Homo sapiens: one gene and its partner. The protein of the gene in region 1 interacts with the protein of each later gene in a pairwise test. Each region holds a gene or a part of one and is shown on either strand. Other genes may lie near its edges. The genes, in order: ARRDC2 and EPN2.

The links.
Region 2: the proteins of ARRDC2 (region 1) and EPN2 interact in binary tests that used the Homo sapiens proteins (3 or more experiments, as listed by UniProt).

What each region holds. Positions count from the first base shown.
Region 1 is NC_000019.10:18,001,113-18,016,847, forward strand, and holds ARRDC2 (arrestin domain-containing protein 2), read left to right. Parts: upstream 1-7,057; 5' UTR 7,058-7,198; coding exon 7,199-7,472; intron 7,473-7,598; coding exon 7,599-7,665; intron 7,666-7,858; coding exon 7,859-8,006; intron 8,007-8,479; coding exon 8,480-8,582; intron 8,583-8,670; coding exon 8,671-8,927; intron 8,928-9,083; coding exon 9,084-9,246; intron 9,247-9,459; coding exon 9,460-9,617; intron 9,618-11,800; coding exon 11,801-11,854; 3' UTR 11,855-12,990; downstream 12,991-15,735.
Region 2 is NC_000017.11:19,326,339-19,339,970, reverse strand, and holds the end of EPN2 (epsin-2), read right to left. Parts: intron 11,261-13,632; coding exon 11,084-11,260; intron 10,411-11,083; coding exon 10,324-10,410; intron 8,119-10,323; coding exon 7,903-8,118; intron 6,016-7,902; coding exon 5,717-6,015; 3' UTR 3,256-5,716; downstream 1-3,255. UniProt on the Homo sapiens protein: Plays a role in the formation of clathrin-coated invaginations and endocytosis.

The DNA of each region.
Region 1 (15,735 bases):
CGGGGGCGGATGCAGAGGACCAGGAAGTTCGCCGACGACGCGCCCGCCCTGGGCCACCGGCGCCGGCCCAAGTTCGCCGGGGGGGCCCGGAGGAAGCTTGGGGGACGCGACGGGGGAACGCGGAAACCCCGGGGATCTGCAGGCGCGCCCGGGCCGTGTGCCTTCTCTCCGCGTGTCCAAACCGTGTCCCCAGCCGCGCGCCATGCGCTCTGGGGGCGTGCGCAGCTTCGCGCTGGAGCTGGCGCGGGGCCCGGGCGGCGCCTACCGCGGCGGGGAGCGGCTGTGCGGCCGGGTGCTGCTGGAGGCGGCGGCGCCGCTGCGGGTGCGAGCGCTCGAGGTGAAGGCGCGCGGCGGGGCGGCCACCCACTGGTTGGAGGGTCGCAGCGTGGGCGTCAACGCCGTATCCAGCGACTACGCGGCCGCGGAGACCTACCTGCGGCGTCGGCAGCTGCTGCTCCGAGGTGAGACACTCGTCGCGCCGCCCCCGCAGCAGCCGGGACCCCCTCGGCCGCGACCCTCTTCAGGGCCGGAAGCCTCTCAACTTAGAACCTATGCGGTCGGGTGATCCTTTTCAAGGAGGGGGAAACCCCCTTCCCGGGGTCCTGACCCTCCCACAGGTCAGGAGTTCAAGACTAGCCTGGGCGACATGGTGAAACCCCATGTCTCCAAAAACTACAAAAATTAGCCAGGCTTAGTGGCGCGCGCCTGGAGTCCCAGCTACAGGCTGAAGTGGGAAGATCGCTTGAGCCTGGGAGGTAGAGGTTGTAATGGGCTGAGATCGCACCACTGCACTCCAGCCTGGACACCCACCCCGCCCTGGTCAGGACCCCCACTAACCGGGAACGTCTACCCAGGGTCTGGGTGTTCCCTTCTCTGGAGCCAGACTCCCTCAACTTAGACTGTGCGGTGGGGAGACCCCTTTCAAAGCAGGGGGACCCTCCTATTAGAGTCCAGGAAACCCGCGGGAAGTAGAGTGGGAGATCTCCCTGGTGGACCCCAGTGTCCCCGTTGATCCCAGGCCTGGAGTCCCTGATTCTCAGAGAAGGCCCCCAACTCGTGTTACCCAGGGCCCCACCTCAGTTTACCCCACAGGGTCTGCAGCGCTGAGTTCTTCCCTGGGGTAGGGTTGGGGGTCTGGTGGTATTTCCCGGTGAGGAGGTGGAAATGCATCCCAGAGGGGAAGAGATGAAGTGGGGTCACATTCTCCTGGGAGTCTGGGTCTTGGGCAGGTCCCTACTCTTCCCCGAACCTCAGTCCTTCTCGCACCCCAAGCGCCCCTAGGCCACGCAGCTGGTCACCAGCGAGCCAGGGGTCACAGAAGGAGGCAGTCCATACCCTCACACCCTACTGTGTGGCTGCGGGAGGGCATCATCCTCTCTGGGCCGCCCTGGCTATTCCTCCGGGCCAAGCCAGACCTCACTATACCCGTCTGTAAAATGGGCCGGGAGGGAGGCAGCTCAGATTCTCGACAGCCCCACTTTTTTCCCAGCGCTGCGGGCAATAGAAGTTTTGGGCACACAAGAGCCACAGGTGCGGGGGACCCTTCCCTCCCCAGCGGTGGAAACAGAAGCAAGTGCGGTGGGGCAGGGCAGGAAGGGGCCCAGGAGGCACTTCCCTTCCCCGGCGACTCGGAGAACTCTTGGGACCGCTTTCACCCGAAGGCCGGCCCAGACACTCAACGGCGACTTCCTTAAAACACTGGAGAGGCAGCCGGGTGCGGTGGCTCACGCCTGTAATCCCAGCACTTTGGGAGGCTGAGGCGGGCAGATCACCTGAGGTCAGGAGTTCGAGACCAGCCTGGCCAACATGGTGAAACTTTGTCTCCACTAAAAATACAAAAATTAGCTGGGCGTGCTGGTGGGCGCCTGAAATCCCAGCAACTCGGGAGGCTGAGGCAGAATTGCTTGAACCCGGCAGGCGGAGATTGCAGTGAGCTGAGATGGCACCACTACACTCCAGCCTGGGCAACAGAGCGAAACTCCGTCTCAAAAACAAAAACAAAAACAAATAAACAAAAAACACTGGAGAGGCGAGCCTGGTGGGTCCACCTGTGGTCCCAGCTATCACAGAGGCTGAAGCGGAAGGATTGCTTGAGCTAAGTTAGAGGCCAGCCTGGGCAACATAATGAGACCTCCCACCCTCCACTCCGTTTTTGTGTTTGTTTTTGTTTTTGAGACAGGGTCTTACTCTGTTACTCAGGCTGGAGTGCAGTGGCACGATCTCGGCTCACTGCAACCTCTGCCTCCCATGTTCAAGTGATTCTGCAACCTCAGACTCCTGAGTAGCTGGGACTACAGGTGCCCGCCACCACACCCGGCTAACTTTTTGTTTTGTTTTGTTTTGTTTTGTTTTGTTTTTCTGAGACAGAGTCTCACTCTGTCACCCAGGCTGGAGTGCAGTGGCGCCGGCGCAATCTTGGCTCACTGCAACCTCTGCCTCCCAGGTTCCAGTGATTCTCCTGCCTCAGCCTCCCGAGTAGCTGGGATTATAGGTGCCCGCCAACACGCTGGCTAATTTTTGTTTGTTTGTTTGTTTGTTTGTTTGGGGGACGGAGTCTCCCTCTGCTGCCCAGGCTGGAGTGCAGTGGCACCATCTCGGCTCACTGCAAGCTCTGCCTCCCGGGTTCACGCCATTCTCCTGCCTCAGCCTCCCGAGCAGCTGGGACTACAGGCACCCGCCACCACGCCCGGCTAATTTTTTGTATTTTTAGTAGAGACGGGGTTTCACCATGTTAGCCAGAATGGTCTCGATCTCCTGACCTCGTGATCTGCCCGCCTCGGCCTCCCAAAGTGCTGGGATTACAGGCATGAGCCACAGTGCCCGGCCAATTTTTGTATTTTTAGTAGAGACGGGTTTCACCATGTTGGCCAGGCTGGTCACGAAATCCTGACCTCAGGTGATCCATCCACCTCGGCCTTCCAAAATGCTTGGCTTACAGGCATGAGCCACCATGCCCGGCCCCCATCTCTTTAAATACATAAAAATTGGCTGGGCGCAGTGGCTTATGCCTGTAATCCCAGTACTTTGGGAGGCTGAGGCAGGAGGATCACTTGAGGTCAGGAGTTCAAGACCAGCCTGGCCAACATGGTGAAGCCCTGTCTCTACTAAAAATACAAAAATTAGCCGGGCTAACTTTTTTTTTTTTTTTTTTTTAGGCGGAATTTCACTCTTGTTGCCCAGGCTGGAGTGCAATGGCATGATCTCGCCTCACTGCAACCTCCACCTCCCAGGTTCAAGTGTTTCTCCTGCCTCAGCCTCCCAAGTAGCTGGGATTACAGGCATGCGCCACCACACCCGGTAAATTTTGTATCTTTAGTAGAGACGGGGTGTCTCCATGTTGGTCAGGCTGGTCTCGAACTCCTGACCTCAGGTGATCCGCCTGCCTCGGCCTCCCAAAGTGCTGGGATTACAGGCGTGAGCCACCGCGCCCGGCCAAGGTGGGCTAATTTTTAAATTCTCCCAGCTACTCAGGGGGCTAAGGCAGGAGAATCGCTGGAACCCGGAAGGTGGAGGTTGCAGTGAGCCAAGATGGTGCCACTGCACTACAGCCTGGGTGTCAGAGCAGAGTGAGACCCTGTCTCAAAAAAAAAAAAAATTAAAATTTTGGCTGGGTGCAGTGGCTCACACCTGTAATCCCAGCACTTTGGGAGGCTGAGGCGGGCAGATCGCTTGAGCTCAAGAGTTCAAGACCAGCCTGGGCAACATGGTGAAACCCCATCTTTACAAAAAATACAAAAATTAGCGGGGCATGGTGGTACACACCTGTAATCCCGGCTACTCGGGAGGCTGAGGTGGAAGGGAGGCAGAGGTTGCAGTGAACCTAGATCGCGCCACTGCACTCCAGCCTGGGCAACAGAGTGAGATCCTGTCTCAAAAAAAAAAAGAAAAGCAAATTTAAAAAAAATTTTTTTTTTTTAATTGATCATTCTTGGGTGTTTCTTGCAGAGGGGGATTTGGCAGGGTCATAGGACAATAGTGGAGGGAAGGTCAGCAGATAAACAGGTGAACAAAGGTCTCTGGTTTTCCTAGGCAGAGTGTTTGTGTCCCTGGGTACTTGAGATTAGGGAGTGGTGATGACTCTTAACGAGCATGCTGCCTTCAAGCATCTGTTTAACAAAGCACATCTTGCACCACCCTTAATCCATTTAACCCTGAGTGGACACAGCACATGTTTCAGAGAGCACAGGGTTGGGGGTAGGGTCACCGATCAACAGGATCACAAAGCAGAAGAATTTTTCTTAGTACAGAACAAAATGAAAAGTCTCCCATGTCTACCTCTTTCTACACAGACACGGCAACCATCCGATTTCTCAATCTTTTCCCCACCTTTCCCCCCTTTCTATTCCACAAAACCGCCATTGTCATCATGGCCCGTTCTCAATGAGCTGTTGGGTACACCTCCCAGACGGGGTGGTGGCCGGGCAGAGGGGCTCCTCACTTCCCAGTAGGGGCGGCCGGGCAGAGGTGCCCCCTCACCTCCCGGACGGGGCGGCTGGCCGGGTGGGGGGCTGACCCCCCGACCTCCCTCCCGGACGGGGCGGCTGGCCGGGCAGGGGGCTGACCCCCCCACCTCCCTCCCGGATGGGGCGGCTGGCTGGGTGGGGGGCTGACCCCCCGCCTCCCTCCCAGACGGGGCGACTGGCTTGGCGGGGGCTGACCCCCCACCTCCCTCCTGGACGGGGTGGCTGCCGGGCGGAGAAGCTCCTCACTTCCCAGACGGGGTGGCAGCCGGGCGGAGGGGCTCCTCACTTCTCAGACGGGGCGGCTGCCGGGCGGAGGGGCTCCTCACTTCTCAGACGGGGCGGCCGGGCAGAGACGCTCCTCACCTCCCAGACGGGGTCGCGGCCGGGCCGAGGCTCTCCTCACATCCCAGACGGGGCGGCGGGGCAGAGGCGCTCCCCACATCTCAGACGATGGGCGGCCGGGCAGAGACGCTCCTCACTTCGTAGATGGGATGGCGGCCGGGAAGAGGCGCTCCTCACTTCCTAGGTGGGATGGCGGCCGGGCAGAGACGCTCCTCACTTTCCAGACTGGGCAGCCAGGCAGAGGGGCTCCTCACATCCCAGACGATGGGCGGTCAGGCAGAGACGCTCCTCACTTCCCAGACGGGGTGGCGGCCGGGCAGAGGCTGCAATCTCGGCACTTTGGGAGGCCAAGGCAGGCGGCTGGGAGGTGGAGGTTGTAGCGAGCCGAGATCACGCCACTGCACTCCAGCCTGGGCACCATTGAGCACTGAGTTAACGAGACTCTGTCTGCAATCCCGGCACCTCGGGAGGCTGAGGCTGGTGGATCACTCGAGGTTAGGAGCTGGAGACCAGCCGGGCCAACACAGCGAAACCCCTTCTCCACCAAAAAAACCAGTCAGGCGTGGCGGCGCGCGCCTGCAATCGCAGGCACTCGGCAGGCTGAGACAGGAGAATCAGGCAGGGAGGTTGCAGTGAGCCGAGATGGCAGCAGCACAGTCCAGCTTCTGCTCGGCATGAGAGGGAGACCGTGGAAAGAGAGGGAGAGGGAGACCAAGGGGAGAGGGAGAGGGAGAGGGAGCTTAAAAATTGTTAAATTGTTATACATTTAAGGAAAAAACAGTGACACTGGAGGGGCGAGGCCAGTGGAGGTGCTGTGTGACCTCGGGCAGAGCCCCACCCATCTCTGGGCCTTTGGGGTCCGTCTGCGAAATGAATTGAGGGAGGCGCTGGCTCAGTAGTCCCTTCAGGGTTACCTAATCCCGCTTCTCCTCCCGGACTTAACGGCCTACTGTCTCCCCTCTAGTATCCATTGAAACCTGGCCTAAGGTCCCAGACCTTCCTTTCAACTCCAAAGACCCATCCTCCCAGGCAGCCTTCCAGGCTGATCACTGTGCCTCCAACTCCGTCGTTCCTGTTCCGATCCCCATCACGGGCTGAGGGTGACCGTGTTTGTTTATGACCGCCCCCTCCACCCACACACCTCACTGAGGTGGTGGAAGTCTCCTGAGCCAGGCTCAGAGGCGGACAGTCACGGCAGGGGATGGGTTCAGCGGCAGCGCATTACGCTGCCACGAGAGGGCGCCAGCGTCCCGCAGACGACGCAGAGGCAACTCCCGCTGGAGAAACTCCATGCGACTTTTCTTTGGGGAAACTGAAGCCCAGAGAGAGGTCACGCCGTCCCGTGGCCACACCGCAGCTGTGGACCTGGGGGTGCCCGAGCGTCCCCTGCATTCAGCTCTGTGGCGGGACGGGGGCTGAGGATGACTGGAGCAGGCACAAGGGCTGCGGGGAAGGTAGGGTTTGCCAGAGGCTGAAAATTGGGAAGGGAACATCATTTCGTAGGTACCGCTCCTGGGCGAATGCGCCGAGGCGCGACCGAGTGACGGTATGTCAAGAGCAGGTTGATGACCCGGGAGCGAGGCTCTTGGAGGAGTCCAGCTGGGGCTGCACGATGATCCATGCACAACCTTCTGAGGTCAGGACTGATTTTTACTTTCTCCCGGCTCTACAGAGGTGGAAACTGAGGCTCCAAGAGGTTGTCATTTGCCCAGAGCCACCAGCTAAGCGGGACTTGAATCAGGAAAGGGGTGCAGCAGGCACCAGTGTGGAGGGCGGTCCCACCCACCTCCTCCACTTCTCCCTTTGCATAGCGGGGGAAACAGGCCTGGAACAGTCATAGGCTCTCTGGCCCTCAACTGGGGCGAGAGTCCCCCGCCCCAAATCGGGCTGGACATGCCTCGAGTCACGTCAACGAGGGGCGGCTGGTGAGTGATTAAGCCGAGAGGCTGAAGGCTCTGCTAGGTGACCTCAGGCCTGGGCCCTGCCTCTGCACCTCTTTTTTTCCTCTTTACCCCCGGGGTCCGCGAGAGACCAGCTCTGGCAGCCTAAGGGCTTCAGTTTCTCCCCGGGGTCCGCGAGGGAAGGGGGCAGCCGGCGGTGAGCAGGGGCGTTTGTTATTTTGCTCCACGCCTGGGCAGAGCCACGCCCCTTGTCGCGCTATTGGTGGAGTCCCTTCCCGGGGCGGGGAAGAGACGGTGACCCCACCCCCCCCCGCCCTGCCGTATAAAAGCGGCGCCGACGCACGGCGCGGGGATTTTCTGCTCCGGTTGGTGAGCGCGCCTGCGCGTTGACGGCGATTTTGCGTTCTGAGGCTGCAGCGTCGGCATCTTGAGCTGCCGGTTCGCGAGTTCGAGGCCAGGTTCCGCCTGTCGTGGGTTCGCACCCCGGACGCGATGCTATTCGACAAGGTGAAAGCGTTCTCGGTGCAGTTGGACGGCGCGACCGCGGGCGTCGAGCCCGTGTTTAGCGGCGGCCAGGCCGTGGCGGGCCGGGTGCTGCTGGAGCTGTCAAGCGCCGCGCGTGTGGGTGCCCTGAGGCTGCGCGCGCGGGGCCGCGCCCACGTGCACTGGACCGAGTCGCGCAGCGCGGGCTCGAGCACGGCTTACACGCAGAGCTACAGTGAACGCGTGGAGGTCGTGAGCCACCGCGCCACGCTCCTGGCGCCAGGTACGGATGGAGGACCCCTGCTCCAACACCAGTTGTGTGCCTCCCACCACCTGGACGGCGGTACCTCCGTCAGCCCTGGGACCCCAGCGCAACCGCTCAGTCGCCTCCTTTTTCTCCTACCTGCAGATACCGGGGAGACCACGACGCTGCCTCCTGGGCGCCATGAGTTCCTGTTCAGCTTCCAGCTGCCCCCGTAAGTCCTCTGGGGTGCAGGGTTGCCCTAAGCCTGCAGCCCCTTCCAGATTGGTACCTCCAATACTGGATATCTGGGCACCTCTGAGCCCCAAGACTCTCCCCCTGGGAGGCCCCCGGAGTGTCTGTGTCTCCTTCTCCCTGCCTGCTTGTCTCTGTATCTTGTCCCCTGAAGTCCCGTCCCTCCACCCTAGGACCCTGGTGACATCCTTCGAGGGCAAACACGGTAGTGTCCGCTACTGTATCAAGGCCACCCTGCACCGGCCCTGGGTCCCAGCACGCCGGGCAAGGAAGGTGTTCACTGTCATCGAGCCTGTGGACATCAACACGCCAGCCCTGCTGGTGAGTGGCCACCCTTGGGGAGGTAGGTTGGGAGTATTGTAGGAAGGGGCCTGCCTGGCTGCTGGGCGACACCAACCAATAAGATGGAGGTCATAGGTGGGCCCTGGCAGGGAGGGAGGCAGGTGTGGGAATGCGTGTGGAATCCACTGGGATCTGCACCCATTTGCCGTGTGACTCTGGGCAAGTGTCTTGAAGCCCTCTCTGAGCCTCAGATGCCTCTTCTGTGAAATAGACCAGAGCTAGGGCTTACCAAGTGTGAATTACACACCAAACACTTGGCTTATACATTTCATTTCTGGCTTTATAAGATGGGTTGTGTTCCTGGCTCTATTTAACGGATAGTTCCTGGATTGTTAAAAAGAAACCAAGCCCTGCCCAAAGTCCTCCCTCAGCTGGGGGTGGTTTGGAAGCTCCACAGCGACTGTGGTTTGCACAAAGTGACTCATCCATGTCACTTTCCTCTACACCGACAGGCACCTCAAGCGGGGGCTCGGGAAAAGGTTGCCCGATCCTGGTACTGTAACCGTGGCCTAGTCTCCCTTTCGGCCAAGATCGACCGCAAGGGCTACACCCCAGGTAGCAGGCGGACCGGACTGGGTTGGGACGGGGGCTGGTGTTGGGGTTGCAGGAGGGGAAACTGAGGCCCCACTGCTCCTTGCTGCAGGAGAGGTCATCCCTGTCTTTGCCGAGATCGACAACGGCTCCACACGTCCTGTGCTGCCTCGGGCAGCCGTGGTGCAGACACAGACGTTCATGGCCCGAGGCGCCCGAAAGCAGAAACGGGCAGTGGTGGCCAGCCTCGCGGGCGAGCCGGTGGGCCCCGGGCAGCGGGCGCTGTGGCAGGGCCGGGCACTGCGGATCCCCCCAGTGGGTCCTTCCATCCTGCACTGCCGCGTTCTACACGTGGACTACGCACTCAAGGTAGGGCATCCTGCTGGCCCTGGGGGACAGTGCCTACATTCACCCTGTATTCCCTCAGACTGGGGGAAGCTGAGGCCTCAGTCTCCCCAGGCATAGGAGGGAGGTGGGGGTTGGGGAGGCTGCCTGGGCACCCTCCCTTATGGTTCCTTCCTCCAGGTCTGTGTGGATATCCCAGGAACGTCCAAGCTGCTGCTGGAGCTGCCACTGGTGATCGGCACCATTCCCTTGCACCCTTTTGGCAGCCGTTCCTCCAGCGTGGGCAGCCACGCCAGCTTCCTGCTGGACTGGAGGCTGGGGGCCTTGCCGGAGCGGCCTGAGGGTAAGCTCCCACCCTGCTTGCATGCAGAGGGTGGGTGGATACACGGAGAGGTGGATGCCGGGTCAACTCTCTCACCACGAGTCCCCCGGAATCCCAACCAAAGGACATACAGCCTGGCAGCCCCAGAGCTGGCACAAGCCAGCTCCTGGCCCCTGGTCCCTTGGAGCAGGGCTCTCTCCTGCCAACCTCACCCACCCTGTCTCTCGCTTCCAGCTCCTCCTGAGTACTCGGAGGTGGTAGCCGACACTGAGGAGGCAGCCTTGGGGCAGAGCCCCTTCCCGCTTCCGCAGGACCCCGACATGAGCCTTGAAGGCCCGTTCTTCGCCTACATCCAAGAGTTCCGCTACCGCCCGCCACCCCTGTACTCTGAGGTGAGCTCAGGGGTCTGAGAACCACCCATGCCTCTCTGGGCCCTGGGAGCCTTGATGGGGTGGCAGACATAGTAGATGGGTTTTTTTTGTTTTTTTGTTTTTTTAGACAGGGTCTTGCTCTGTCACCCAGGCTGGAGTGCAGTGGCATAATCATAGCTCACTGCAGCCTCGACCTCCCGGGCTCAAGCAATCCTTTCGCCTCAGCCTCTTGAGTAGCTGGGACTACAGGCACACGCCACCACATCCTGCTAATTTTTGTGTTTTGTTTTGTTTTGCTTTGCTTTTTGAGATGGAGTTTCAGTCTTGTCACCCAGGCTGGAGTGCAATGGTGCGATCTCAGCTCACTTCAACTTCCGCATCCCTGGTAGAGCGATTCTCCTGCCTCAGCCTTCCGAGTAGCTGGGATTACAGGTGTTAGCCACCACACGTGGCTAATTTTTGTATTTTTAGTAGAGACGGGGTTTCACCATGTTGGTCAGGCTGGTCTTGAACTCCTGACCTCAGGTGATGGCCTGCCTCGGCATCCCAAAGTGCTGGGATTATATGCGTGAGCTACCACGCCCGGCCAATTTTTGTATTTTTTGTAGAAATGTGGTCTCACTGTGTTGCCCAGGCTGGTCTTGAACTCCTGGGCTCAAATGATCCTCCCATCTTGGCCTCCCCAAAGTGCTGGGATTACAGGCGTCAGCCACTGTGCCCGGCTGGCAGAGGATTTTAATTGTTGACAGAATTTCGCTACATACAGTCGGCCCTCTGCGTTAGCTGGTTTGGAATCTGCAGATTCAACCAAACATGGGTCAGAGACATTTGAAAAATAAATACATACATGGATAATACAGATTAAAAATATGATAGGCTGGGTGCGGTGGCTCATGCCTGTAATCCCAGCACTTTGAGAGGCCAAGATGGGAGGACTGCTTGAGGCCAGAAGTATAAGACCAACCTGGGTAACATAGCAAGACCCCCATCTCTACTGCAAATAATACAAAATTACCCAGGCTTGGTGGAGCCCATCTATGATTGGGAGGCTGAGGCAGGAGGATCGCTTGAGCCCAGGAGTTTGAGGCTGCAGTGAGCAATGATTGTGCTACTACATACTCCAGTCTGGGAGACAAAACAAGACCTCATCTCAATACTACTACTAATAGTAATAATGCAGTATAACAGTGATTAAATAGCATTTATATTTTGTGTGTGTATATGTGTATATATATATATATATATTTTTTTTTTTTTTTTTTTTTTGAGATGGAGTCTTGCTGTGTCACCTAGGCTGGAGTGAAGTGGCACAATCTCGGCTCACTGCAATCTCCACCTCCCGGGTTCAAGCAATTCTCCCTGTCTTAGCCTCCCGAGTAGCTGGGATTACAGGCATCCACCACCATGCCCAGCTAATTTTTGTATTTTTTAGTAGAGACGGGGTTTTGCCATGTTGGCCAGGCTGGTCTAGAATTCCTGACCTCAGGTGATCTGCCTGCCTTGACCTCCCAGAATGCTGGGATTACAGGCGTGAGCCACCACACCTGGCCATAAAGTATTATAGGTAATCTAGAAGAGATTTAAAGTACACGGGAGGGCTGGATGCAGTGGCTCATGCCTGTAATCCCAGCACTTTGGGAGGCTGAGGTGGGCAGATCACTTGAGGTCAGGAGTTTGAGACCAGCCTGGCCAACATGGCGAAACCAGGTCTCTACCAAAAATACAAAAATTAGCTGGGTGTGGTGGCATCCACCTGTGATCCCAGCTACTCACGAGGCTGAGGCAGGAGAATCGCTTGAACCCAGGAGGTAGAGGTTGCAGTGAGCCGAGATTGCGCCACTGCATTCCAGCCTGGGTGACAAAGCGAGACTCTGTCTCGAAAAATAAAATGAAATAAAAATAAAGTACACAGGAGGATGGGCTTAGATTATCCGCAAATATTATGCCATTTTATATCAGGGACCTGAGCATCTGTGGATTTTGGTATCCACGGGGTTCCTGGAACCAATCCCCTGTGGATACCAAGGGACGGTATACACTCAGCTCCAAAACCCTCCTTGCACCCCAGTCTGCCCTAGACACCACCTCCTGATGGCCTCATCCCTGGTCAAGGGCGGGAGTTGGGAGATGGCTAGATGGGGAGCGGTATTTCTGAATTTCTGTTTCCAGTGTTCTCTGAGGCTTAATGGGAACATTTCTCTTAGGAGGATCCAAACCCACTCTTGGGGGACATGAGGCCGCGCTGCATGACTTGCTGAACGGCACAGGGACCCCTCGAGGAACAAGGTTGCACACCAGCTTTCAGCCACCATGACTGTGGGGAGTGGCTGGACCAAGGGCTGACCTCCCCGACTGCATCAAAGTTGGGGAACCAAGTCTCAGAGTGAGGCGGGGGCCTTTCGGATATCACATGGGACAGAGGAAGAGCCCGGCTGGAATCTGACTTACCTGGACCGCTGTCCTTGTGAGGCATTGAATGCCCAGTGCAGTATCCGAGAGACTGTTTAATAACCTGTCTTCCCAGCCAATTGGTGGTGCTGGAATCCCCTAGGAGCCTTCAGTCTGGGAGAAACAGAGCCAGACATAGACAGTTCCAGCATCACAGAACCAGAAGAAGAGACCTGCAACTGTGAGAGTCCAGACAGGAAGCAGAGAAGGCGTCCTTGCGGAAAGGGCATTTTAGCTGAGGCTTTGGAGTACGAATAGGAGCTCAGCAGGCAGACGAATGAGGAATAAAGGTCAGAGAAGGTCAGAGCTGAGTGACGTTTGGAATCCACCCCGTTTATTGTAGAACTGGGGGTTCAGAGGGCAGGTGCCTCAGAGTTGAGGCCACACAGTGAGGTCTGGTGGGTGAAAGGACCCAGGAACGAGGCGTTCAGGAAAGCAGGTTGTCAGAGCTATGTGGAGTCTGTGGGTGGCAGGGGCAGCCGCTCCAGCCTTTGAAGACTTTGAAAGCCAGAGATTCCTGGCGCAGGCTTGGACTTCCTGGGAGCTCCTCCAAGTACCCAGGGGCATCAGAGCTGCCTGGGTGTTACATGGCCCAGGGAACCCAGGTTCAGGGTAGGACAGGCAAGACCAGATACCCAATGTGCAAAGTGAAAACACTGGGCTCCCTGTTAAACGATGAAGAATTCAAGACAGTGACAGCATTACGTCACCCCTGGGGACAGAGGTCAGCCTAAGGTGACACACGGGGACTACTGTGCTTCCGGAGGCTCCCTGTGTCCTGGAGGAGAAAAGCATTAGAGGGGGCAGCTGGACAAGCTCCCAACTGCAGAGTCCCAGCCCTGGCTGGGGCAGGGCCCCGGCCTGGGACTCAGCATTTCTGATATGCCTTAAGAATTCATTCTGTTTTGTACAATTATTTTTTAAAAGTAAACGTGTGGAGAAAGAATCCGGGCTTCTTGGTTTATTTCCGCCCCCGATCTGGCTGCTGAGGGAACTGGGACTGCCATCCCTGGTCACTATCTTGGAGACTAAATTCCTGGCCAAGGAAGGCAAAGGGGCTCATGATTGAGAAGGGGAAACTGAGGCCCAGGACTGGGAGGGGGTTGGTCCAAGGACATATGAGGAGGCTGAGCTGGGGTGGGAGCTGAGCCCTGGGCCCCATACCTGCACCGCCTATCGGAGTCTCAGAGGCTGGCGGGGGCTGAACAGTGGAGGACAAGCAGAGAACTCTATCCTCAGAGAGTGGGGAGCAGGGGGCTGGGGCTGGGAGGAGCCGCCTGAGTACGGGAACATCCTGTCATCTGAGTCTAGGTTTGGTTTTTGTGGGTTTTTTTCTGTTTGTTTTTGTTTTTCAGAAGGAGTCTTGCTGTGTCGCTCAGGCATAGTGTAGAGTGTAGTGGTGTGATCTCAGCTCACTACAACCTCCACCTCCTGGGTTCAAGCGATTCTCCTGCCTCAGCCTCCAAGTAGCTGGGATTACAGGTGCCTGCCACCACACCCGGCTAATTTTTGAATTTTTAGTAGAGACGGGGTTTATTTTTTTTTTCTTTCTTTCTTTTTTTTTTAAGACAGAGTTTCGCTGTGTCACCCAGGCTGGAGTGCAATGGCTTGGTCTTGGCTCACTGCAACCTCCGCCTCCCGGGTTCAAATGATTCTCCTGTTTCAGCCTCGAAAGTAGCTGGAATTACAGGCATGTGCCACCACGCCTGGCTAATTTTTCTATTTTTTTAGTAGAGACAGGGTTTTACCATGTTGGCCAGGCTGGTCTCAAACTCCTGACCTCAGGTGATCTGCCTGCCTCCGCCTCCCAAAGTGCTGGGATTACAGGTGTGAGCCACCATGCCTAGCCCTGGATTTGTTTTTATTGAGGTGAAATTCACATATTGTAAAATTCACCACTTGAAAGTATTCAATTTAGTACACTTTACAATGTAGCATTTAATACTCATAATGTTTCTTTTGTTTGGTTTTGAGATGTTCTCACTCTGTTGCCCAGGCTGGAGTGCAATGGCCCGATCACAGCAGCCTCAAGAGATCCTGGGCTCAAGAGATCCACTTGCCTCAGCTCCTCGAGTGGTTGGGACCACAAGTGTGTACCACCACACCCAGCTAATTATTTTTTTGTAGAGACACGATCTCCCTTTGTTTCTCAGGTGGGTCTTAAATTCCTGGGCTCCAGCAGTCCTCCCGCCTCAGCCTCCCAAAGTACTCGGATTACAGATGTGAACCATCACAACCGACCTGGCTATTTACGATGTTATGCAACCATCACCACCATCTATTTCCAGAACATTTCTATCCCTGCCAAAGGAAACCCTGTCCCCACTAGTGATCAATCCCCATTCCCCTTCCCCCACCTCCAGCAACCACTTTCTGTCTCTGGATTTGCCTATTGTGAACATTTCATATCAATGGAATCATGCGGCCTTTTGTGTCTGGCTTTTATCACTCAGCATGTTTTCCGGGTTCATCCACATTGTACTATGTGTCAGAACTTCATTCCTTTTTCTGGTTGAATAATATTCCATTGTGTGCGTAGACCACATTGTGTTTAGCCATTCATCCGCGGATGGACATCTGGGTTGTTTCCACGGCTTGGCTATAGTGAATCTTGCTGCTAAGAACACGTGTGTTCAAGGATTACTTTGAAAACCCACGGAGCTGTTAGGTGGCCCTAGTGGCGTGGGGCTGTTATTCTTCTGGAGTTACAGGTGGGGATAGTGAGCTCAAGAGAAAGAGACTAGCCTGGCCAACATGGTGAAATCCTGTCTCTTCTAAAAAGAATACAAAAATCAGTGAGACGTGGTGCAGGCACCTGTAATCTCGGCTACTTCGGAGGCTGAGGCAGAAGAATCACTTGGACCCGGGAGGTAGAGGCTGCAGTGAGCTGAGATCATGCCACTGCACTCCAGCCTGGGTGACAGAGTAGTGAGACCCTTTCTCAAAAAAAAAAAAAAAAGAAAAGAAAAAAAAGGAAATAAGAAAGAAGGGAGGGAGGGAGGAGAAAAGAAGAGAAAAAAAAAGAGAAAAGAAAAGAAAGGGGGGAGGGAGGGAGGGAGAGAGAGAGAGAAAGAGAAACAAAGGGAAGAGGAAGGAAGGGAGGGAGGGAGGGAGGGAGAGAGAGAGAAAGAGAAACAAAGGGAAGAGGAAGGAAGGGAGGGAGGGAGATGCTCCACTTGGGTCCCACAGTCAGGACTGAGACGGCCAGCACTCAAAACTGCCCCTTGGGCCAGGCACAGTGGCTCACACCTGTAAATCCCAGCACTTTGGGAGGCCAAAGCAGGAGAATCGCTTGAGCCTAGGAGTTTGAGACCAGCCTGGGCAACATAGCAAGATCCCGACTCTACAAAAAAAAAAATATATAAAAAATTAACCAGGTGTGGCAGTGTGGACCTCTAGTTCTAGCTACTCAGGGGGATGAGGTTAGGAGGATCACCTGAGCCTGGGAAATCGCGGCTGCAGCGAGCTATGATCGCACCACTGCACTCTAGCCTTGGCGACAGAGTGAGATCCTGTCTCAAAAAAATATATAAACACTGCCTCTTAGACTCCAGAGTCCATGCCGCCCTCAGGCCACATGATACTGTGCCCCTCAAGCTCCTGCTGAAGCTCTGCCTGTCTCACCTAAGCCCTCGTGCCCCTCCAAGGTTGGGCAAGGCCCTATTGAAACCCTAGTCTGGGCCGGGCGCGG
Region 2 (13,632 bases), on another chromosome or scaffold:
CTTGCTGTCCATGCTGTCGGTGTCACAAAGCTGCATGTTGACCAGCCTATCTCCCTTTTCTCCTGGCACACCAGAAGACTACATTTCCTAGGCCCCTTGTATCAAGGTGGGTCCATTTGGGTAGTTCTAGCCAAAGCAAAGTATGAAAAGGATCTTCACCACTGAGAGGTCTGACCCACTTCAGGGTCACACAAGCACTTCTCGTTCTTGTCCATGGCACCCTTTGAGGCACACATTGAAGAAAGCAGCATCATAAGGGAGGAGCCTGAGTCTGGGCACCCCAGCTTGCAGAGCACTGCCAGGAACATCTCCATTAGGCTTTTTGTGAGTGAGAAACACTCATAAGATACTGTGCTCAGCCAATGAGAGCTTGGGGTTATTTGATCCTGCATAGCCTATTCTATTGCAAATGATATGAAAATCAGGAGTGGGTTTCTGCTGTAGCCAAAAAACAGAAAAAACAAACTCTTGTTGGCTAAGCAGCTGCGTGGCAGGCAAAAAGAATACAGCTCATAAGCTGGACAGCAGGAGATCTATATTATGCAAGTACAAGACATTTGCTAAGACTCTCATGCTAACTTGGGAGGCAGGTTATGTGCCCCAGAGACAGCAGCTCTAGGGGAAAGGGACAGGCCAGATAGGATGTGCAGTGTGAGTTGGCTACTGTTGACTGCATTTTGGAATGCTATCACAGTAAGGAGGAAAGAACTGGCTAGTTTGCAAGCAGAAATGAAAGGCAACAATCTAAAAAAAATTAGCATCAAAAGGTTGCAAAAGACTTTCTCAAACTCTAATGAGAAAAGGTAAGATTCAAAATTGCTTTCAGCAATAAAGGCATAATAAAACTTCTCATCTGAACAAAATAACTTGGTCTTTTGGTAAATACGGAATTAAGGGGGTGGCTCTCCCATCATGATCCCAGATGGCCTCATGGTAGCTACCATTAAATTGAGAGAAGCATGGAGGTAAGGCAGCAAGGAAATAAGGCAGCTTATGTCTAGGAAAGAATTTTATGTGTGTGCTTGAGTTGTCCATTGCTGTGTAACAAATTACCCCAAAACTTTGTCACTTAAAACCACTATCATTTATCACTCATGATCCTACAGGGGACTGGGCTCAGCTGGGTGGCTATGCTACACTTGATTCTGGCTAGAGCTATTCCACTGAGCTGACCAAGATGATTACTCACATGGTGGGCTGTTGTCTGGGGCTCATGGGGGCTACTGACAGAACACCTCCGTTCTCCCCCATGTGGCCTCTCCATGTGTTTGAAGTTCTCATAGTACGACATGTGGGCTGCCAGCAGAACATGCCAAGAGGTCAAGCTCCATGTGCAGGCATTTATCAAGCCCCTCCTGCCATCATGGCACTGGCCCCATCTAGTCATATGGCCACGCCCATCAGGTGACGGAGACCACACTGGGAGACAAGGTCCATCAGGGGCCACCAAAGTAACACTCTGACCAAAATAATGCAGTTATTTGTACATGGAACTGATTAGAAGTACAAAGATTGCCACATTTTTGATGGAAGTGTGCAAAGTCCATGAGCCTGGACTGAAGCCTCTGGCTCACTCAAAACAGGTCCTGGCCTGGAACCATCCACCCACAGGCAGCAGGTGAGAAAGCTGAGCTTGGCCCAAGAGCTGCAGCCAAGGGAATACAAAAAAGGCCAGCTCCCCACCAGGGGGCAGAGCCCAGAGCAGGGCACCATCAGGTCCTTTCCCTCCTCACCGCAAGGCGACCTCAGTCTGTGCGGCAGCTTCCAGCACTGTGGGGCAGTCTCCCATTCTCTGCTCCTCCAAATGGAGCTGGACTGTGGGTACTGACCCCTGCCCTGCTTTGTTGTTATTGTTGGGGGAAGGGCACAGATCATAGGTCTTTCTAGTTTATAGGCTGTGTCTGCCTTGCTGGAGAAGGCTCTGTACTCCACAGAGCCCAGGACACAGGACCTTACTGTCTATGTTTGAGAAGAAGACTGAAATAACTCTCTGGGAGCCAGACAGTCCGCTGTGATAGAGACTGGCAATGTTAACCAAGCCCATTTCCCCACCTCCCACCCTCCACCACTAAGGAAGCCTGCACTTGCCCATCCCCACCCACCCCACATCTGGATGGGGGCCGAGGGCCTAATTCTGGCACTGGTGTGAGTGGCAGTGAGGCAATTCCAGGCCTGGCTGTAAGAAATCTATGCTTGACCCTTGTCCATTTTTCCCTTCATAGCCACCTTCAGGGCTGTCTGTCAAAGATAGCAGTGTTTCAAGATGAAAGCGGCTTGAGTCCCTGAGTCACTGACTTCTGTGAGAAACTTCCGCGGGAAGCCGCTGAGACCTGGAGATGTGTTACTGCAGCGTAACCAAGAGCATCCCACACACCCTTCTTTCTCTCCTGTCCCCTGCACTGAACGGGCACCCCCTGCCACCAGTCCCTAGCCTCCTAGCTCTGAGTCAAGCTTGTCTGCTTATCCTTGGGTGGACACCAGGAGCCAGGCACTTGCACAGAGAGCAGAGGGCTGCAGGGCAGTCCCAGACCTCCCTCCAGGCTCGTCTCAAGGCCTCTCCAACCCTTCCCATCAGGGTCTCCCAGCCGCCTCTGCCTCGGCCTTGCCTCTTCCCGTGACCAGAGCACCTCTTCCACCTCTGCTGCCTGGAGATGCACGTGTCCTCCCGCCGCTGCCCTCGTCTGGTTGGTGGCTCTGAGGCACAGGCCCTCTGTCGGTCAGCTGTTGCACAGCAAGCCACCTAAGAACCAGTGGCTCCAACAGGCCCTTCCTCTCAGGAACACGCAGTTGGCTGGGCAGCTCCACGCACTCCCTCCCTCTGTTGCCTCAGCTGACAGGCAGTGGCTTCCCAGAGCAGCTCTTCTGCAGCATGGACACAAGAGGAGGCAGAGCACAGGAAGCCTCTGGGGACCCGGCACACTGTCACTTCCACCTCATCCAAAGCAGCCTCCACCAGTGACAAGGCCGCATTAAGAGGGCGGACACAGAAGGGTAAAGGGCAGTGGCTAGCACTTCCCCCAGCACACCCGTGCAGGCCACCAGTCTCAGCACCTCACAAAAGGCACGCCTCCCACCCCCTTTCCCTGAGGTTCAGGGGCAACCAAATGCCCAGCTCACGCGGGCACTAGGACCAGGCTGGTGGCCTCAATAACTGCAGACCAAGCTCCACAAGAATCGGCTCCCTCATCTCCCACCTCTCCAGTGGCACAGGACTGATGAAGATGGGGTGGGAGAAGGACACAGCCAGAAACCGCATCATGGTACAAATGATAAATTATATTTATACAGTAAATAAGTATCAACAGTCAACACAAGTTCAAAACCAGCCACCGGCCTCTGGGACTGAGAAACAGCTGGGTGACTTCCTCCACCACGGTGCCCATCAGGAGGGAGCACGATGGCACAGGTGCAACATGCGTGGCAGTGGCCGGTGGCTTCATGATCAGTGCAGTGGGCAACAGGGACATGCACTCGGGATGGCCTGTGCCAGAAGATGGGGCAGGGGGCTGTCTTCTTGGGTCCCGGTGGCCCAGTGGCTGTCATGTTGGGGCCTCAAAGTCACATCATGAAAGACTCGTTACAAAAGAATCACTGACCCCAAGTAGTCGAGTCTAGTCTACTGACCTGTAAGGCTGGCCCAGGCCCTGCACCGTCTGAAGGAAAGCACCTTTCTGGGCAAGCATCCTGCCTCCCATCCCATTGCACCTCCCCACCCTTCCCCCGGCAGACGAGACCAGCCACCGGCTTACCCAAATGGCAGCGGGAGCCTAAGACCCAGCCGCAGGCCTGCAGTTCTGGCAGAAGGTGGCTGGTCAGGAACTCTAGACACGGCTCCTGGGACTGGAGAGGGCGGCCTCAGGAACAGCATGAGTGGGTGCAGTCCCCACTCAGAGCCTGCATGTCCCAGCAGCCCAGAGACCATTTAAGATCTCTCCTGTGCCGGTGCGAAGGGTAATCTTCTGGAACCAGAGAGGGGCTGGCAGGTGGTCAGCTGCCCTTAGAGCTAGAGGTGAGAAATTCCCATGGTGGAAAAAGGGCCAGAAACATCCACCAGGCAAGCTGCCCAGACACAGGATTGGGGGAATGTCCCCTCCCTGGGTAAAAGCAAGTCTTTTCTGGTCTTTAATGCACGACGTAATACTTTTACAGTGGTGGGTGAGGTGAGGACAGTAGGAGTTTGGAAGAGGGAGGTAATATTAGTGCATGTTTGTTAAAAATCCCTCCCAGGTGAATGACTTTTTTCTTCATCTCCAAAATACAAGAGAATTATTTTTAGGTCTCCAACTTAAAAATAATATCTGGAGTTAGCAGGTAGGTGGATCAGGGCCAGCCCTGGTCCCTTAGCCCCCCACCCCTGTCTTAGCCTAGGGACTGTTGCCCAGGGACCCGTGGGCACAGAAGCACCCCCCACCCCACGCCCTCGGGACAACTGCCATTTCCACATTATCCCCATCTTTAGCCTGAGCGTGGATTAAGACAGAGGAGATCACAGACACACAAGGTTAAAGATGTTTCTTCCATTTCAGATTTCCATTGTAAACAGAAGTCCTGTTAATCCCTGCATGCCTTTAATAAAAAAAAGGAATTAGTTGATAAAAATTGGTGAGTCACATTCATACATTAGATTTTTTTCTTTAACTTTCAGGATGTTGGTATATTCGTAAGAAAAATAGCCTCTCAGGATCTAGCCAAAAAGGCTGAAAGTCAATCAGTTTAGTAATTCACCAAAAACAGGAGCTAAAGAAAGGAAAAGGCAACTGGAGGCTAGGATTTTTTGTTGCTGTTGTTTTTTTTTTAAATAAACATCATCATCTATGTGTAATCAAATTCCCATATTTTCTTCCTATAAAGAATTTGCTTTAGTTTTTCAATAAGGCATTTTTTTGTCATCCAAACATCTCTTCCTTTTAAAATTTTCTTAGAGTTAAAACCATAAATAAGAGGATTTAAACCACTAAAATGACACGTGCCAACATCTTCATTCAGCCAGACCTGGTAAATTCTATCAAAACTAGACAGTTAAATAAGAACCACGTTATAAAAATATTAGCCAAAAAAAGACTATTAGATAATTCTGCAAACTCAAATATGAAACTGTACTAAACAAAATATGTGCAAAGGTACACAAGCATAGAGCCACGTTGGGGGTTATGCTCAGATTAGTTTTAAAGCTCGCTCTAGTGGATTTAATTCAAGAGTTGTCCACGGTGGTGGTGTTTACTTTGAACTCACACGAGTCAAAGAAAAATAAAATATGCACAACCACTTCCCCAAAAGGTGTCTTATGGAGCCGGTGCTTCATCGTGTCCACACCCAGGACTGCCTGGGGTGTCCCTAGGGCTGGGGGGTGGGGAGGACAAAGACAAGGCCACTGTCCCAAGTCCTGGGCCAGGCAACATCCTGGAGACCCTCGGGCTGAGGTTAGGGGCAAGGGCAACACTGATGACTCCACGTCCTCGTCCAAGGCCTCAGAGGAGCCCTGCCAGGACCTCAGTGCTTTGGAGGAGGTGGTGAGAGCAGGCCAGGCTGAGGGGCCTGCCTTGGAAGGCGAGGGTCTGAGGGTTGGGGCTGTAAAGACAGCCCTTTCATCAGGAAGCTGGAGCTGAAAAGCCCTAATACCCCTAATCCCCAAACTCTTGGATCCCGTCCCACAGACGAGAGTCCCTGCTCGGCATCCTCCAGCACAGGTGCTCTGGGTGGGTCCCAGGCCCAGGCACTAGAGAAGGAAAGGGTTGGTTGTGCCAGTGGCCTGGGCTGCTGATGGGGGTATACCCACACTGCCCACCATGTTCATCATTGCAGGGCCCAGTGGTGTCAGAGAGGAACCAGTGGCCCCCAGAGCTGGCTGTGGGGCCGCGGAGGTCATCGAGGCCACAGCCATGGACTCCACTCCTGGGCCAGGCCCAAAGGATGTGCTGGTCCCCAGGACTGGGCTCCCCCGAAGCTGGTTCAGTGTCAGCGGCTGGGGCTGGTTCACCTGGAAAGGGTTAACAGGGGCCGAGGTGGCGGGAGCACCTGGGGAGACAGAAGGAGGGGCAGAGGCTGAGCCGTCAGGGTGTGGCTTTCTGAGCTCCCAGGTCAGGGACTGCATGCGGGTGTTCTGGTCCCTGCTGTGCCCTCAGAGCCCGTGACAGTGCCGGCCGAGTCCATGGCAGACACTAGCAAATATCTGCTGACTGCATGAATCTGCACTTTAAGGATGAGGAGATTGAGGCTGTGAGAAGCCAAGTGATTTGTCCAGCGTCACAAAGCTGAACAAGGCCATGCCAGGAACACACCCATCTCGGGGCACCCTGGCTCCTCTGCAGTGCTGGCACCCAGGACACCTTCACCAGCCATCAGCTACCACTGCTCCCTCATTTTGTTTGCTGAAAGGGACATGGGACTGGCAGTGTGTGGCTCATGTGGCAGTGCCCACAATGCACCCAGGGATCCACATATGACACCGCGAAGGCTAGAAATCCTGCAGTCAAGAAGTTGATGCAGCTTTGTCTTTCCCAGTGTCTCCAGAATTTACCTCATACCAGAAAGCCTTTTCTTTGCAAAAGTGTGTGCGCTGCTGGCACCAACTCTCCCATGCAGCCTGGCCCTACCCTGTGTGGCCTGGAGAATGGCCCTGTATGTCCAGCAGAGTTGCCCAAACCTCCTCCATCTTGGCTGCAGCCCCCAGGAACCATGACTGGTGTGCAGCCAACAAAGCTGCCTCAGGCCTCCAGCCAGGTGCCCACCAAGAGCTGACAGACACAGATGACCACTGGAGCTCCTGCAGGGCCTTCAAGGGCTCTCTGGGCAGAAGAGGCATAAGGCCTCCTGGGGCAGACACAGACTCCTGGCTGGCTGAGGAGGCTGGAAACTAATCTAGTTCCACCCAGGGAACCACCTCCCCTGGGGGCAGCCATGTCCTCACCCATCTCAGGACCTCAGGGTTGGCCAGGACCCAGTAACTCCACACACCTCACCTCTGCCCAAGGGTCCCCAACCTCAGCCTCTGTAAGTTCAGTGGTAATTCTCCTCTGCAAGGTACTGTCAGGGACGGTGGCCCAAGATCCTCAGATCCCTACATGGTGGGGCCAGCCTGGGGCTGAACACCTGAGGGTGACACATTCCTGCCCTGGGGGAAGCCCAAGGCTTTGGGGAAACCCCGTGAGGAAGGGGGCTGGGTGGACTTCCTAGAAGGGAGTCATCTGAGCTAGGTGTCAAAGGATGAGGAAGATGCTTTCATTAGGGAAGAGGAGGGAGGACATTCCAGGCAGGGGAAACTGAGTGTGTAACAGCCTGGGCTTAAGGAAGGGCTCTACAGGCTGAGGGGCGCCAAGGGGCTGGATGTCACAAGGGTTTCATGCACACAGGAAGGGAAGAGGAGGGTGGGACCAGGCCATAATGGCCCTGGATACCCAATTGAACAGCTGGGGGCTTGGCCGGCAGCCAACATTGAGCCCTGAGGGCAGGGGGCAGACTCTGGCACCAGGAGTGGAAGCAAGGGACCTGGAGGAAGGCTTGTACCCAAGGGCTAAGTTACATTTTTCCCGAGAGAGGAATGCTACACGCCAAACCCTGGCTCTTCCTCACCCCCAGCAGCCCACCCTACTCCACCTGTCTTAGAACTGACATTCCCTCGAGGGTCTCACAACTGGGGGGGCACCAAGTCAGGGACAGTTTCTGCTTGGTAGTCTCAACTGAGAGGAGAGGAGCTATTTCCTACCCATACACTCCCCACATAACTGACAACGGCTTCCACACCCCACCCCATGCAGCACTGGCGAGGGCATACGTAATCATCTAGAGATTCCAGCTAGTCCCACCCCTTCCCCGTCACACAGTGGGAAGAGCCCCCAAGAGGCCTGCTGCACACCCATTCCCAGGCACAGCAGGCAATGGATGAAGCCTGGGATGAGAGCCTACCTGGTGCCAGGAAAGGGTTGAGGGACTGGGCTGGTGGGGCAGGCCTGGTCACCAGTGAGTCCAGGTTCACCAGGGCCGCGTTGGGGCCCAGGAAGGACTCAGGTGTTTTCCGGGCACTGCTGGGCTTGCTTGAGGCGACAGTCAGGGGTTGAGACTCAAAGGGGTCAGGGCTGGTAGTTCCATTGTTTTGGGATGGCAGAGAGGTCACAGATTCGGCTACAAGACAAGGACACATATGGCAGGGTGAGTGTGGCAGGGAGAGCCTAAGACTGTGTACTTAACACAAAACATGGCCTCCTGGGGACATGCCTGCCTGACAGCGCCACGTGACGACACACAGCCAGTCATGGGCTGGGTTAGATAAATCAAGTGTCCACATAACGAAACACCAGCATGCAGGAACAGAAGAATACCTAATGATAAGCAAAGAAAGCTTTATCAAAATACTAAAGCAGGTTATAAAAGAGTGTGTATAGCTCATTCCTCCAGAATACCAAGATGTCATTTTGGGTTGGAAGCTAGGCATGGGCAATTTACTTTTTTTTTTTTTTCTTACATTTTCCATTTACTAAATTTTCCACAATAAACATGAACTTCTTGATAGTAAAAAGAAAGCAAATTGTGTCTTTTAAAATTCAGCCCATAGAGGCAACACAGGCTGTGCTGAGCCAGGCCGGTAGGAATGTGATTGCCACGACGGGATGCTTCACGGTACAGGAATTCTTAACAACAGTCATTCTCTCACTTAGTAACCCCATTTCTAGGAATCTGGTCTAAGCAAATAATGTAAAATGTGAACAAGGTTATAAGCACAAAGAGTTTCACAACAGCATCATTTACAGTAGCAAAACCTGAAATCAACCTAAAATGTCCTCCCCCAAATTATTGAATTGTTGCTGAGCCATATAAAGAGAGATTATATAGCAACAAAGTATTTTTTAACAAGTTTTAAAGTCATGAGAAGATGTTTTCAATCTGTTAATCCACAAAAGTTGAGGCAAGGGGCAGGACAACTCTATCTGACAATATGAGCTGAGCAAAAAAGACTCAAAACAAAACAAAACAAAAAAACAAAACACCAATAACACCAGTGCACTCCAGCCTGGGCGATCGATCAAGGCTCACTGCAGTCTCAATCTCCTGGGCTCAAGGGATCCTCCCGCCTTAGCCTCTTGACTAGCTGGGACCACAGGCAGGTGCACACGACCACATCTGGCTAATTTTTTAATTTTTTTGTAGAGACGGGGGTCTCACTATGTTGCCTAGGCTGGTCTGAAACTCCTGGGCTTAAGCAATCCTCCCACGCTGGCCCTCTCAAAGTGCTGGGATTGCAGGTGTGAGCCACTGCACCGGCAGGGGATAAATGTTTCAAAAGCTGACATGTAACAATGGCCACGCTGCCTTCTCACTGAGGCACGGAGCAGGAGTCAAGGACAGGTTAGGCTATACTTTGGCCTACAGAGAAGACACATGGAATCTTATTAATGCAGCAAAGGAAAGACCCAAAAAAGCAGCACATTCTCAAAGCTGCCTCTGGTCTCTCAGCTGGGAGCTCTTGAACTGAGAGGGGTTAGAGGAGGTCAAGGGGGTCGAGCAGGGTCAACGGTGCCAGGCTGCTTGTACCTCACACCAGGGCCTAGCCAGGCTTGTGGCTACAGTTGGTAGGGAGGGATAAAAGAGAAGGGAGAAAAAGAAGAGACTGGGATAGAGGTGGTAGGGAAATTGGGGGAGGCAAGCAGCAGAAGCCAAGACAGGAAAGAAAAAAAGAGAGAAGTTGCCATGTGTGGCTGGGAGATGTGGCCCAGAGATGGACAGAGGCTGTCACACCCCAGTCCAAACAGGGTGTGTGAAGAATGCATCCCAGGCCTTCTCCCTCCACCCCTCCAGGCCCACCTTGGCCCACTGGCCACTTGGCCCACTGCATCCACCTGATATCCTTCCATCCCAGAGGCACACAGGGAAGGAAAACAGGTCTGGAGACTGGACTGTGGGTCTGCTGGGCTGGAGCGGTCACCTGGGAGGTGACAACACAGGGCAGAGGCTGGCCCCACTGATGCCCAAAGGTGGTTGTCTGGGAAAAGGAGGCCCTCTGAGGAGTGGAAATTGGCAGGAGGAGGGTGAATGGAAATGCTGGATCAGGCCAGAGGTGAGGCCCACTCTGAGCTGAGGAGGCCGGGGCTGTGGAATCTGCAGGAAGCTTTGGGGATCCTAACCTGGAGACATAGTCCTGGGGGACTCTACCTTGTGATTTTTAACTATTGATGTATGAATTCTTAGAATTAGAAACTTCAGGCTCCCAAGATCAAAATACAAAGAAAATGCAGGAAGCTGAAGGGTTTTGAAAGCTGATTATTATTTCTGCAATAACTCAGCTGGTCAAATGCACGGAGGATTATGGAAACCATCATCACCTGTACATACCTGTTTTTTTTGAAGTCCGAAGGTTGTCAAATTCAGAAAAGTCATCTTTAATTGTACCATTCAGATTACTGAAGAGCTCAAAGGACCCTGGGTGGACACAGAAGCCAATGACTGGGGGCATCTCACAGGACTTCATGGCAACTCCACTGCCCAGTGCACACCCTCAGGATGGGCTGGCAACAGGGGCCTCTCCCCGCTTACCCTACCTCATGGAGGAGAATTCTGAGAGCCAAAGAGGCAAGACAGCCTGGGGTCACCAGCACGCTGGGAGGGGAGACAGGGAGCCTGGCCTCCCAGGACAGGGTGTGGGATGCCCACCTGCTACTGCTTCTAACACCCTCACCCCAAAAGGCAAAGGGGTGCTGGCAGTGGTGGAGGTGCATCAAGCTGGGTCTGGTTGCTTGGATGAGGGTCTGTAGGAAGTCACCAGAAGGAGTGCCTGGAGGCCAGCCTGCCCAGCCCCCCAGGGGTGAGGACAGGACCCACAGGCTGTGGGCCCAGGGCAGTCTTCTCTCTCAACACCCAGGTGGAAGCCCCCTCAATTTGGAGGGAGGTACCAGCGCACAAAGCCTGGGAACTCGCACTCACTCACTCTCACACTGGGGCACCTGGGATCTGGGGATCAGGAACAAAGGCTAAGGGGGAGGAGGGGAGCAAATGCAAGCAAAGCAACAGGGCTGATGCCTAGGAGCCAGGAGCGGCTGCAGGGCCCGTGGGCGCTCAGAGGCCAGGCAGGAAAGTGGGTGAGTGAGGGGCTCACCAGAGACAGACACGGGCTTGGTGGTGGAGACTGCGCCCCACGCGTCAGAAGCTCTTTTCCCAGCACTGGAGGCAGGCTGCTGTGAAGCTGCCCAGGGGTCCGAGTTCTTGGGGACAGATTGTACGGTGGCTCCAGTGGGCACCCCCCATGGGTCAATGGAGGCAGCTGGCTTGGTACCTGTTGGAAGGCAGGGTCAGGGCTCAGAAATGCCTTCAGAGGGTCTGGGCAGCTGGGGTGAGAAGGGAAAAGGATACTGCCAGCCACACCAGGGTCTATGCCCTGTGCCAGGTGAGACAGCCATCAAAAGGGTACTGTCCCACGCCAGCAAAGAGGGACACAGCTGGGGCCCAGGGCCAACAACCCTGGTAAGGAAGCATGCTAGGCCAGGATGTCCCAGGATAACCTCTCCCTGTCCTCTAGTAATGACCAGAGGAAGCAGCTGAAAGAGGTTCTCTCCAAGCTCCCCACCATACAGGGGGCTTGCAAAGGGCTCCTGAGCTCAACCCCACTTCGATGGACTATCTGAAACAAACCTATCTCCCCACAGAATCCAGGCTCCCTCCTCAGACAAGGGGCCCCAGGCAGCCCTCCCACCTCGGCCCAGGCTCTGTAGAGGCACAGAGGCATCCTCTCCCCATGTGCTTTGAGTGGTTTCTGCTTTCTGACAGAAGCATATATAAATGGATGAGTCCTGTATAAAAAGGAATAAAACAAACAGCTACATACTTACCACCCAACTTAAGCAATAAAACACTTTCAAACAGGGAGTGACAAAATCAATTTAGTGGGTCACAACTGGCTTTAAAAAACAGAGAAAAAAATTTTTAAAAAAAGAAAAAACACACACAAAAAAACTAAAACATCTGAGTGCATCTAATGTTAAGTGTCAACGCTGTGATGTGCATCTTTATGTATAGACACAGATTTGTGTATACATGAGTACATATAAAATAAAACCAACATCTCCTTCCTTCTCGCGGAGCACTGCAAGTGTTCAGACACCACTGCCGCCTCTCAGGGACCAGAAAGTGCCTCCCCAATGACATTCCTACCCCAACCATTATGAACTGTTTATTAGCCTTTCTCTTGTTTCTCCTTCTAGTTTATCTTGTAGGGATACCTTTAGTTAGTTGTGCCTATTTTCTGAATACACACACACATATATATTATGTATATGTATGTGTGTCTAAATATGTGTGTGTATTCATTTATTTATCAGATAGGGTCTCACTCTGTCACCCAGACTGGAGTGCAGTGGTGCAATCACAGCTCACTACGCCTCCACCTCCCATGCTCAAGCGATCCTCCCACCGCCGCCTCCCAAGTAGCTGGGACTACAGGAATGTCACCACGCCCGGCTAATTTTTTTTCTAATTTTCGTCGAGATGGGGTCTCACCGTGTTGCCCAGTCTGGTCTCAAACTCCTGGGCTCAAGCAATCCTCCTGCCTCAGTCTCCCAAAGTGCTAGGAATACAGGTGTGAGCCACCATGCCAAGTCCCTATTTTCCGAACTTTATATGAATAGAAGCATTCTGTACACATTCCTTTGTGGCTGGCTTTGTTCACTCCACATTTTATTTGAGAGAGTCATCTGTGTTGAGGTGGAGCTGGAATTTGTTTTGTTCCATTCTATGAAAAAAAAGTCATGATTCCTCTGTTGAAGGATACTCGTTTGGTTTTGCTGCTTGTTCTTGTTCACATGTATACACGAGTTGCTGGGTCATGGGTACCTCTGCCTTCACCAAGGAATGCTACAACTATTTCCACATGGTGGCACGAGTTTATGTTCCATCCAGCAGTGGGTGCCAGTCTTGCCGCCCCAGGAGTTGCCTCATAACCTCTCTGATGCTTAGTATTAGCTTACTTTCCCATGTGTGCCAATCTGGTGGGCTGAAAAGTTATTTGATTGTGGTTTTGATGTGCATTTCCCTGTTCTTTAATGAGGCTGTGCATCTTTTCATATACTCATGGGTCACTCATGATTCCTCTCCTATAAGGTGCCAATTTGAGTCTTTTACCGATCGTCCCTTATGGTTACCTTCTTCTTGACTCATCCCAGCAGCATGGACTAGAGTCCATCCACTCCTCGCAGCATGGTATGCAGGGCCTCCTCTGTCGTAAGTCAAGTCTTTGTGGGCTTATTACTGGGCTCTCTACATTTACCTATTTCCGTCCTTGCACTTTTTTTTTTTTTTTTTTTTGAGACGGAGTCTCGCTCTGTCACCCAGGCTGGAGTGCAGTGGCGCAATCATCGCTAACTGCAAGCTCCACCTCCCAGATTCATGCCATTCTCCTGCCTCAGCCTCCCGAGTAGCTGGGACTACAGGCACCCACCACCACACCCAGCTTATTTTTTGTATTTTTTAGGAGAGACGGGGTTTCACCGTGTTAGCCAGGATGGTCTCGATCTCCTGACCTTGTGATCTGCCCGCCTTGGCCTCCCAAAGTGCTGGGATTACAGGCGTGAGCCACCACGCCTGGCCACTTGCACCTTCTTAATTATCCTCACAAACAGTGTTATGAGAATTCTTGATATCTGATACAGCAAA